Regions from separate parts of the Homo sapiens genome. Here region 2 is linked to region 1. Evidence: fine-mapped expression QTL. A gene starts in region 1. The other region holds a variant in brackets. All regions are shown on one strand. Distances are between the middles of the regions. Region 1 holds the start of PAK6 (p21 (RAC1) activated kinase 6). Region 2 overlaps BUB1B-PAK6 (BUB1B-PAK6 readthrough).

Region 1 (5,364 bases):
CTCCGCCCCTCTGACCCCAACTGGGCAGCAGCCCCTGCTCAGCTCTGCATGCATGGAAGACTCCTAGGCACAGAGTCACCTTTTGTGAGGCAGCATGAGATACCCCCACAGCTGGGTCATTCTCCTCATCCAGGAGCCAGGTGTGGGAATTCACTGGCATGAGAGACACTTATGGGTTCCTCCTGACTCTGAGCACATGTGCTCCTCCAGGGCAGGGGACTTTTTGGTCATCCTTAGGAGTTGTGCACAGAGCGGGCTTTCCTTGGCTGGAGACCCCACCCACTGCACCCTCCCTGTGTCTGGCAAGTCCGGGAGGGCCCAGAGCACTCACAAAGCATCAGTTTGTCCTCGGGGCACTGGAGAGGCCGTGCAGTCCCCACACTCCCCCTCTCAGGTGCACAGAGCTTCCATCCAAATCAGCTGCTCCCAGAAGGGCTTGCCTCTGGTGCCGACCCTTCCCTGACCAGGCGCTCTGTCACTAGGGCTCCCAGGTGCCACCTCCAAGCCTGGGCCAGGACAACCGCCAGGGAAGCCTGCCTGCAGAGGGGACTCCTTGCTTGCCCCAAAGGCCTCAACCCCAGCTAGATGAGCTCCCGTGGGGCTGAGTCCCAGGCCCACCAGGCCTGGGGGCCACACGGCTCCTAAGCTCATCCTCTCCTCCTGCAGCCCAGTTCCCACCAGAACCAGCCTCAGGAAGACCCCAGGCAGAACGGCACAAACCTCTTGGTGTACAATGCCAGGGAAAGGATAACTGGAGACCACAAGACGTTAGCCTTGCTTCCCGGTGGGGCCCAGTGCTTTATAAACCCGAGCTCACTGGGCCCGATGTCCCCAAAGCTGACCAGGTCATCCACCCTGCAGCAGGGGTGGGGAGACCAAGGCCTGTGAGGAGTGACCGTGCTTGGCCAGGCAGCTCCCTGAACCTGCCCTGATGCTGAGTTTCAGAGTCAGAATCTGTGCCAGGTCAAACCCAGCCAAAGGGTGTGACTTGGAGCCTGGGACCCAGCAGTGCTCCCTAAATATTTGTGGAATGAATACACAAGGGAAATGTCCCAGAGGTGGTAAAGTGAGAGGGGCCTTGGATAGGGGTGTCCCGGTGGCACTGGCTTGGCCCAGCTGGGGCAGGAAGAGTAGAAACAAGCACCTCTCCCTCTAGCTAGGGAGCCAGAGACCAGCTGGGATTGGACTGTTTCACAATCAATCTGGAAAGAAGGTGGCAGGCCGGGTGGGGAGTGGAGCCCCTTGACCCAGGAACCCACAGCTGTGGAGTTAGCCTCCCTGTCCCAGGTGGGAGGCAGCCTGGACACCTTGGCACCCCCGTCCCTAGCCCAGGAATCCGGAGCACGCAGCGGCAGTGGGGACCTTACCGTGGCTGCTCCTTCTGGGCAGCGGGGTCCTGCGTTCTCCACTGCAGGCTGGTGCTTGTCTCTAGCCCAGGAAGCGGCACTCCCTTCAGGCAAAATAGAAAAAAAAAAAAAAAAAAAAAGGAAAAGAAAACCTCAGTGCTTTTCTCACCCAGCCTCTTCTCTTGAAGGCTCCTGGTTGGTATTGTCCTGCCACTGTGGGCACACAGCCTCCCTCCCTCTGGCAGCTTACTCACTGGTGCCCGCAAAGCTGCCAGCTGTGTGGGGGAGAAGGGACCTCCCCCCTCCTCCTGACACACACTGGGGCATGCCCTGTGGGGACCAGGGGCTTGAGGGTGGCACCCGCTGGGTCCTGATCATGGGGAAGCCGTACCCTGGCCAGCACCCTTCTCACTGAATGTGTCCCTGTGAGCTCAGCAGAGACGCACATGGGTGCTGACTGGCCCTGCATAAGAGAGTGACATGGTTCTTGGTAGGAAGCTGTTTCCTTGGTACCCAGGCCTGCCAGAATGAAGGGGCAGCTGATGGGCTGTCCAGCCCCCCAGTGATGGGCTCTCACCCTGGCCAGCCCCTCCGGACGGCTTCCTACCTGGGCATCTTGCTGTGTCTCTGTCCTGTGCACCCAGACAGGGCCTGGGCCTGCCGGGGCTGGCAGCTGCTCCTCACCCTGCTCAGGCCGTGTGTCTGGCGTCCCCTCTCCCTGACGCCCATCTCAGGGCCTGCGCCCACCCAGCATCAGTTAGGATAAACTCCTGTCAAGCCCCCAGCCAGCTCTCTGCTGGACCCAGCTGCTGTCCCCAGCAGGGGGACGGCACACACACTGGCTTACACACTCTCGCACTCACACACACGTGGGTCCACACCCAACACAGAGCCACCTACCTGCCCAGGCCAGCCTAAGCCAATCCAGCCTCGCTCTCCAAATGCCACTCCGACCCCAGAAGCCACTCCTTTACCGAAACATCCCCGTGGGAGATGAGTTCAGAGCCAGCCCGGGAGGACTCCAGTCAGCTCGGACAAGACTGCCCTTCTGTCCCAACACCTCCAGAGGACACACACAGGCAGCCTGACCACCATATCTGCTATTGCACTCTGCCTGCTGCCACAGCCCCCCGGGCACTTCTGGCCCCCACAGCGTCTTCCATATCTTTAGGGGGTGGCAGCAGACTCACAGCAAGTCCCATCTTCCTGGAGCCCAAGGTAGGGAGGGGAGAGCTAGAAGGGGCGGGACTCAGGTGCAGCTCCAAGTTTCCAGCTCCCAAAATAATCAGATGCAAAGGAGAAGCAAGAACAGCTCGAGGCGGGCGGTGACTCAGTGCTAGTGGGCCGGCTTAGTCACCTGGATGGCTGCTGGCGGCTCCTGGCACATCAGGACGGGAGCAGCGCCCTCCCCCACCTGCCTGGACCGTGGCTGTCTCCAGAGTGTGGCCGCCGAGCCCCGCGCCCAGGGCTGCCTGGCAGGCGAGGCCGCTCCACCCCGCTCCCGCCCATCAGGGCCCAGCGGCCCCGGCTGCGGCGCGCCCCTCCTCCACCGCGCGCCCCGGCTCACTTTGGGATTTCTCCATTAAATCCTCAGGCATCGACCTGCTCGTTTGGGGCGCCGAGCTGCTCCAACGTTGCTTGGCAATTTTGATATCGTCGGGGGTTGCCATGGGGAGGAAGGTGATGTCATTGACACAAAAAACCCACTGAATTTACAAATCAGCTGGGGCTGGAGCTATTTATAAAAACACGTTTTTATCTGCCTTTCTTTGCTGAAGGGGAGGAGGAGGAAGGGCTGCCTGCCGGGCTCAGGGTGAGCCTCCCTGCTGTCCTTCCTACCCTTGCCCTAGAGAAGCCAGACCTCCTTGGCTCACCCCCACCCCCACCCCCCAGAACTTGGAGCTGCGCATTCAGATCTGGCAGGTGCTGGTCTCAGCTGGTTTTGCTTCGAAGGCTGAGAGTGGCACATGGGATGTAAGGCAGGGTGGGTGCTGGCTTCCTGGGCTGGCAGGGACCAGAAACCAGTTACTCAACCGGGTCCCTTTATTTCATTGCCCCTGGTCAGAAACAGAGGCATTTGCTGGTGAGGCAGCTTGAGCTCCTTGATGTGCCCCCCTGCCAGCTCCCCGGAGCGCCAGGTGGAGCCCAGCCTTCCACAGTGCCCTCCCCATCCCTAGCCTCAGTGTCTCCTCCACTGGCTTCTTTTCTTCTCCTAGTGTCCAATCGTGGGCTGCCCAAGCTCCAGGCTTGGTCCCCTGCTCATCTCTCCCCACACTCAGCCACCACTCCATCAAAACACCTTTTTTCTGTGGCTTTGACCATCACCTGGGCAAATGCTTGCCCGAAAACCCATTTTGTGCCTGCCCCACTTCAGGCGCCACCTCTGATGGCCCAGCTCCCACTGCCAGGACCCACTAGCTATTGACAGCCAGAGGGAAGCCTGGGAGTTCTTGCCTCTTCCCGTCCCCCAGTCCCTTATATCCAAGGTGGCACTTGGCTCTACATTTTATTTTTGAAAACTTTCTAACTTTCTTCTGTAGCGAAGCCATGTGGTGTTTGGTTAAAAGTCCAGGCTGTGAGTCTTCAGTCTTCCGCATCTCAGCTCCACTGTTCATCAGTTGAGTGACCTTTGGCATGTTATTGAACCAATTGAACTTCAATTTCCTCATCCATAAAATGGGGATGATTTCACCTGCCTCACAGGGCTGTGGAAATTAAAGGAATAAAGTTTCTGGCACAGAGACTGCTCATCTTGATCCCAATAAACATTAGTTTTTATCCACCCCTCCACTGATGGCAGATTAATCTTCCCAAATCATGACCCTAGGCACCTTCTGTGCAAAGGTCTCAAGCTGCATGCGTAGACATTTTGATTGAACGCAGTGTTAGATGTCATGGCATTAAACATAAGAATTTCAATTTGTGGCCAGGCACAGTGGCTCACGCCTGTAATCCCAGCACTTTGAGAGGCTGAGGCGGGTGGACCATGAGGTCAAGAGATTGAGACCAGCCTGGCCAACATGGTGAAACCTCATTCCACTAAAAATACAAAAATTAGCTGGGCGTGGTGGCACATGCCTGTAATCCCAGCTACTTGGGAGGCTGAGGCAGGAGAATTGCTTGAACCCGGGAGGCGGAGGTTGCAGTGAGCCAAGATTGTGCCACTGCACTTCAGCCTGCGCGACAGAGCGAGACTCTGTCTCAAAAGAAAAAAAAAGTTCAATTTGTGGTCAATATGAAACATTTTCCCTTTAACTAGGTTATCAGTTCCTTTTGGAGAGGAACTCTGTATTTTTCTTCTTTTTGTATCTCAATGTAATTTTGTGTGTAAACTTATAAATAATCCACTTCTGCTCTGTCTCACTAAGGAATGATCCAGGAAATGCAAACTAAAACAAAAGGGATATACCACTCCCTGTCATTATACAGTGAAAAAAAAATGGCAGGTGGGAGAGTGAATTGGTACAGTCTTCTTGGAGGGCAATTTTACAGTCTTGACCAAAATTTCAAAATGTGTATGTACTTGATCCAGCAAATGCACTTCTAGGAATCCAAGTTAAGAAATAGTTGCACATCGGCCTGAAGATATTTGTATAAGAATATTCATGGTAGCACTGTTTGTAACTGCAAAGAATTTGAAGCCACCAAAATGTGCATCAATTGGGCAGATTAATTGGGTGACAGATCTATACAGGATGGTACATCCCCATGCAATGAAGTATCTGCAGCCTTAAAATGAATGAGTTTTGTCAGTCGGTATGTATGTACCAGCTATGTGTGTACCGGTATGCATGTACATACGTATGTATGAGGAAGGATGACCACGATAGTTGAGCAAAAAGACCAGGTTTATCAATGTTAACTTGAAAATGAGATGGCATAATCTCATATAAGTTTTTTTATTTAAAGATATTTCTATATCTGTATGTTTAAACCGCAAACTGTCAATGTGGTTATCCTTGGAAATAGGAGTGGTGGTGAGAGGGGTCTTTCACTTTGGACTTTTTACACTCTTGCA
Region 2 (5,364 bases), 27 kb before region 1:
CAGCAATGCCTCATTTCCCGCCCTGAGCCATGGCTCCCCAGCTGTGGGCTTAGGGGGCTATACCTTAAGTATCCTAAAGGGGAGAGGCCATGGCATAATATTTTTAAAAATAATAAAGCCGGCCTGGCATGGTGGCTCAGGTGCCTGTAATCCCAGCACTTTGGGAGGCCAAGGCAGGTGGATCACTTGAGGTCAGGAGTTCAAGACCAGCCTGGGCAACATGGTGAAACCCCATCTCTTCTAAAAATACAAAAATTAGTTGGGTATGGTGGAGCGTGCCTGTAATCCCAGCTACTTGGGAGGCTAAGGTGGGAGGATCACTTGAACCCAGGAGGTGGAGGTTGCAGTGAGCCAAGATTGTGCCACTGCACTCCAGCCTGGGCGAAAGAGGGAGACGCCATCTCAAATACTACTAATAAAGCCATTTATTGAGGGCTTACCACTTTGACAAGTGCCTTCAACGTACTATCTCATGTAATCCTCATAACCCTGTGGGTTGTTTGGTTGTCCTGTAGGCACTGGAACCCGCAGGACGCCCGTGGCTGCTGACTCCCATGCTGCAATCCCACTGGTGCCATGTATCCTTGACATATATCGGAGTACACGGTAGGTGCTTAACCAATGTTTGCCCTTCTGACTCTAAGTGGAACATGTCTAATCCCTGCAAGCTCCTAAAAAACTGTCTTGCCTCTTTGGTCTCTGTGCCCCCACGCCCTGTCTTCCTGATCTCTTTAGCTAGAGTGACTCCAGGCCTCACTGCCTGGGGCTAGGTACAGGAGCCCTGGAGTCTATACTCAGACCCTCCTGCAGCCATGCCTGGCACACTGCATGGCCTCTGTGGCCTAACTGCTGTTATGGAAGCTGCTGCAAGTGTCCAGAGTCAGCCCCAGTGCCAAGGGCTGCTGGCTTGATCTGGGGACTCCTGGGGTAGGTGGTGGTGGAGGAGGAGGAGGAAGGCTGATGCTCCCCATCTGTTATTGAATTTGCTTAAGGCAGTGGTTCTTAATGGGTGTGCTCGAGTGACATTTGGCAGTGTCTGGAGGCATTTTTGGTTATTCCAACCGAGGGTACCACCAACTTCTAGTGAGTAGAGGCCAGGGAGGCTGCTACAGTGCAAGGAGAGCCCACCACAAAGGATGGACTGACCTGAGCGCCTGCAGTGAGGACGCTGAGAAGCCCCGGCCCGGAGCAGCTCGGGGGGTCTCAGCTTGCCATTGAGAGGCTTGGCTTCAGAGTAGAAATCTTGAAAGATGTGTCTGAGTTGCCCAGAAGGAAACCACTCCCCTGGATTTGGAAGTATGGTGTTGCTGAGCTCGAGATAACTACCGCCTGCTCCCACAAGTATGGGGGACATCCCGGCATACCCAGCAGCAGTGGCCCATGGTGAGTACTCAGTACATTGTGCAGGGATGGACAGGCCTCTCCCCCTGCTGTGGGGTGCTGGCAGGAGCCCAGAAAGATGCAAATGAGTGCCCAGCCCAGTGTTGACAACCCCTTTCTCCAAATCCCTGAGGCCTCGCAGCAGGACTCCTGAGAGACAGAGGGAGGTCAAGCTCCGAATCTCACCTTCCCAGCAGGGTGCACTGTCCTGATCTTACGTTGGTTTTCTGGCTGAGTCTCCCCAGGGGCACAGCCTTCCAGACACCCTGCAGCTCACAGATGCTCGTGTTCCTCTCACAGATACATCAAGCCACAACCCATGGGGATCCCAACCCACTGTCCTTTAACCTAGTAGGGGACTAGAGTGCACAAAGCTCAGAACTTTCTCTTTTTTTTTTGAGACGGAGTCTCGCTCTGTCTGTCCCCCAGGCTGGAGTGCAGTGGTGCGATCTCAGCTCACGGCAAGCTCTGCCTCCCGGGTTCACGCCATTCTCCTGCCTCAGCCTCCTGAGTAGCTTGGACTACAGGCGCCCGCCACCGCGCCCGGCTAATTTTTTTTGTATTTTTAGTAGAGACGGGGTTTCACCGTGTTAGCGAGGATGGTCTCGATCTCCTGACCTCGTGACCCATCCACCTTGGCCTCCCAAAGTGCTGGGACTACAGACGTGAGCCACCACGCGCGGCCGCCCAGAACTTTCTCTGAGTACCTCAGCTGGCAGGCAGTGACCCAGAGAGGTTGTAGTCCGGGTCATCCCCAAACCCACACCCTGTGCAGGCTGGGCCACACTCACCCCACCGATGACAGGGGAGTACCCAGGCTTGTCTTAAAGCCCTCCCAGGAGGGAGGGGAGGCTCCATTACCCATGCCACTGTCAGCAGCCGTTTCTTAGGACTGCCTTTGACCCTCCCAGGAAGGAGCTAAAGAACAAGTGGCTGCTGTGCTTGTAAAGCCTTCATACGCAAGAGTCATGAGCCAAGAGGGCCCGGGCCGGACAGGCAGCCCCAGAGCACTCCCCACCTTCCTTCTCTGACTCACTCTCCATCATGCCTGGGGGTGACTCACCCTCTCTCTATCAGTCTCCTCCTCTGCCAAATGGGAAAAGAGGTTACTGTCACTATCAACAGGATGCTGGAGGGCCTGGAAGAAGCAAAAAGGTGCGCTCCACTCTGCCTGCCAAGAAATGTCACCACGGGGGCTCCCTTCACCCTTTCCTTTCTCACAAGAAAAATGTGCGTCTGAAGCAGTCACACATGCCACAAGTCGGCCTCCTGCTGCCCCTGGACTAGGCAAATCCAGCTTTTCCTATGGCCACACACTTGGGAACAAATACTGACAGAAATGGGAAACAACACAACAGCCACAGAGAAAAGAAGGAAAGGAAGGGAGGGAAGGAGGAGGCGAGCCACCCTCCTTAGAGAAGAGGTTACCGTGCACATTTCTGCCGCCTTAGGCGGAAGCAGTCCAGGGAGCCTCTTTGCCAGTCCTCCAAGGGGAAGGCTAGGCAAGGCCTGTGTCC[C/T]TACACCCACTCCCCAGTGGACACCTGCAGGCCAGGCTCCTGACTTACCTTGCTCTGTGGTGGAGGGCCTGGCTTGCTGCTGCTTGGAGGGGCTGTGGCAGCAGTGGACAGGAACATGCTTCGGAATAGCCTGCGCTTCAGGCTGCTCTCCCGGGTCTTAGGGCTAGGGCTGCCTTCCCCACCTGGCCTGCCTGTGGCTGAGCCCACCAGGCAGGACTGTGGCCGGGCCTCCTCAGAGCCATGCTTGGCAGCCTTCATTCCATGCCTATTGGTGCCCGTGGGGGGCGAGGCTCCTGGTGGGGAGCTCTGCAGGCAGGCACCCAGCTGCAGACAGCGCTGCGAGGCACCCTGAAACTCGGCGGGGCCCAGGGACTGTGCCTTTGCAGCCAGCCCATTGGGCAGGACCCGTGGGCTCTGTGGCTCGGGCCACGGCATCTGCTTGTGGCCTGCTGGTGTGCCCCCGTTGCAGCTGAGGTAGAGGCCGTGGGGGTCAGTGCGCTCAGACTGGGGGCTCTGGAGGTACATGTCTGGGTCGGTGGCCCAGTGCTCATCCCCCAGCAGCCCCAGGGACTGTGCCCGCCGCCGGCTGGTGGGGCTGCGGCCACGCAGGGTGTTGGAGCTGATGACTGACAACTTCTGGATGTCGTTGAGCAGCCCCGAGATGTAGCCATCCACAGGCATCGCGCTGCCCCGCACCACTGTCTGTAGGGGGAAGAGAAAAGAGTGTGTGGGAGCTGCCCAATTGTGGCAGGGAGGGGTGGCTGGGAGATCAGGGTCAGAGAATGTCCCTGGGGGCCCTGGGGAGGACCACCTAAGGACCTTCCCTGCTGTGTCATCCACCCATTAATTTTTCCATAATTTATCAGGGCCCACCGTGGGTCCCGCCTGTGCTGGATGCAGGGATGCGGGGAGAAGGCCCAGCGTCAGCAGAGCAGATGGTGAGTGCCATGGGGCTGCATCCAGCATGCCCAGGGGTGTGGTCGGCTGGGCCAGGGAGCTGGAGCTCAGGGGGCGGGGCTCCATTCTCTAGCTCCACGGGTGGCTGGGAGAGATGTGCCCAGCCCTCTGAGGAAGAGACACCAGGCCGGGGGCTCCTCCACACACACTGGCTTCGCAGCCTCCAAACCCTGATAGGGCCCCTGACCCCACCTTCTACCAGGCTCTTGGGTCTACTAGTCGTGACCCTCACAACTAAAATTCTCCTGGTCTGGGAGAGCCCTCAGTCCCTATGGGGCTGCAGGTCCAAATATTGAATGGGACACGTCCTAAAAGACTATTCGTTGTCATCTGAAATACAAATGCAATTGAGCATCTCACATTTTCATGTGCTGAATCTGGCAACCCCACCACCCTGCAGAGAGGGTCTCCCCAGCCTCCTTCGCCCTGGCTTACCCAGGGAGAGAATGGCAGGCTGACAGGCAGGGAGTTAAAACAGCTGATTAACTGATAGCTGTGAAGTAGGTGGTTCCTCCAGGGGCCTTTCTGAGGTTTAGCCAGGCATGGTTGTCTGAGTACTGGGAGAGGCTGAACCTCATCCCTGCCGGCCCCTCTTACCTTCATGGGCTGGAGCTGCACCCGTGTGATTCGCGAAGGGTCCACCACGGGCTTGGGGCGCCGCAGTGTGTCCAGGATGTTCTGCCATTGTGGGGGGAGGCCCACAAACTTGCCTTCTTTGGGGTCGAAGGAGGTGTGGACACGGTGCTGGAAGTTCTGTGGCGCTGAGATCTCAGGGCGTTTCTTCTTTTTCTTGCGGAACATGGTGCCTGTAAGTGCAGAGTAAGGTTGAGCTCCCTCCCGGGAAAGAGGGGTGGCTGCAGCAGGGCCTGGGGCACCAGGTTCAGGGCTCCCTCCCCTCCCCCAGCACAGCTCCCCTAGAAGCCTAGGGCTTCCCTCCACCTCCATCTCTGCTTCCTCAGGGAAATGGCTGGCTCCCAGCAGAACAGTCCCAGAAACAACAAACGTGCCATAAATAAGCCAGTGCAGACTATAAACAAGGAAAAGAGGTGTCTTCTTGCCTGTGCCAAGTCCCCTATGGAGCAGGCAGACTCTGGGGGTGTGTTTTTATAAAATCCAAAGCCCATTACAAGTATCATTCCACTGTCTGTCAACGAATTTTAAAAATGGGGAAAGAGGGAGGAAAGTTAGCAAGCTTGTTTTATGAAACGAGTATGACCTTGATTCTTAAAACCAGATAAGGAGAGTGCAAGAAAAGGAAAATTTGACTCAATATCATTTAGGAACGTAACTATGAAAATCTTAAAACTATCGAATTGAATCCAACAGTATATTAAAGTTATTTTTTTGTTGGCTTTTTTTTTTTATTACAACTCAGCTTTGTCCCAGGATGGTTGAACCTGTTAATATGATACGTTAATAAAAAGCCAACCAGCTGATCACAGACATGCTGCCCGGTGTGGGACTATTATGTATCAGGGAGCCCCCAAAGGGCCTTCATGGTTACCATGTG

Evidence for each region. PIP is the estimated chance that this variant, and not a neighbour inherited with it, causes the effect.
Region 2: its variant is fine-mapped to the expression of PAK6 in adrenal gland (GTEx, PIP 0.98).

Annotation. Positions count from the first base shown.
Region 1 is chr15:40,236,685-40,242,048 of GRCh38, reverse strand. It overlaps PAK6 (p21 (RAC1) activated kinase 6), which reads right to left and starts at 2,986. Exons shown (of 11, transcript NM_001395430.1): 1 at 2,247-2,986; 2 at 1,368-1,450. The region is part of intron 1 of BUB1B-PAK6 (BUB1B-PAK6 readthrough); the gene reads right to left. LOC107984763 (a long non-coding RNA gene) reads left to right here and starts at 2,348. Exons shown (of 3, transcript XR_001751506.2): 1 at 2,348-2,564.
Region 2 is chr15:40,264,077-40,269,440 of GRCh38, reverse strand. It overlaps BUB1B-PAK6 (BUB1B-PAK6 readthrough), which reads right to left. Exons shown (of 10, transcript NM_001128629.3): 3 at 4,452-4,660; 4 at 2,946-3,599. The coding sequence starts at 4,655. It overlaps PAK6 (p21 (RAC1) activated kinase 6), which reads right to left. Exons shown (of 11, transcript NM_001395430.1): 4 at 4,452-4,660; 5 at 2,946-3,599. The coding sequence starts at 4,655. Among named protein-coding and RNA genes, the nearest start is that of PAK6-AS1, 14 kb to the right of the region's middle. The variant C/T (reference allele first, on the strand shown) is at 2,898.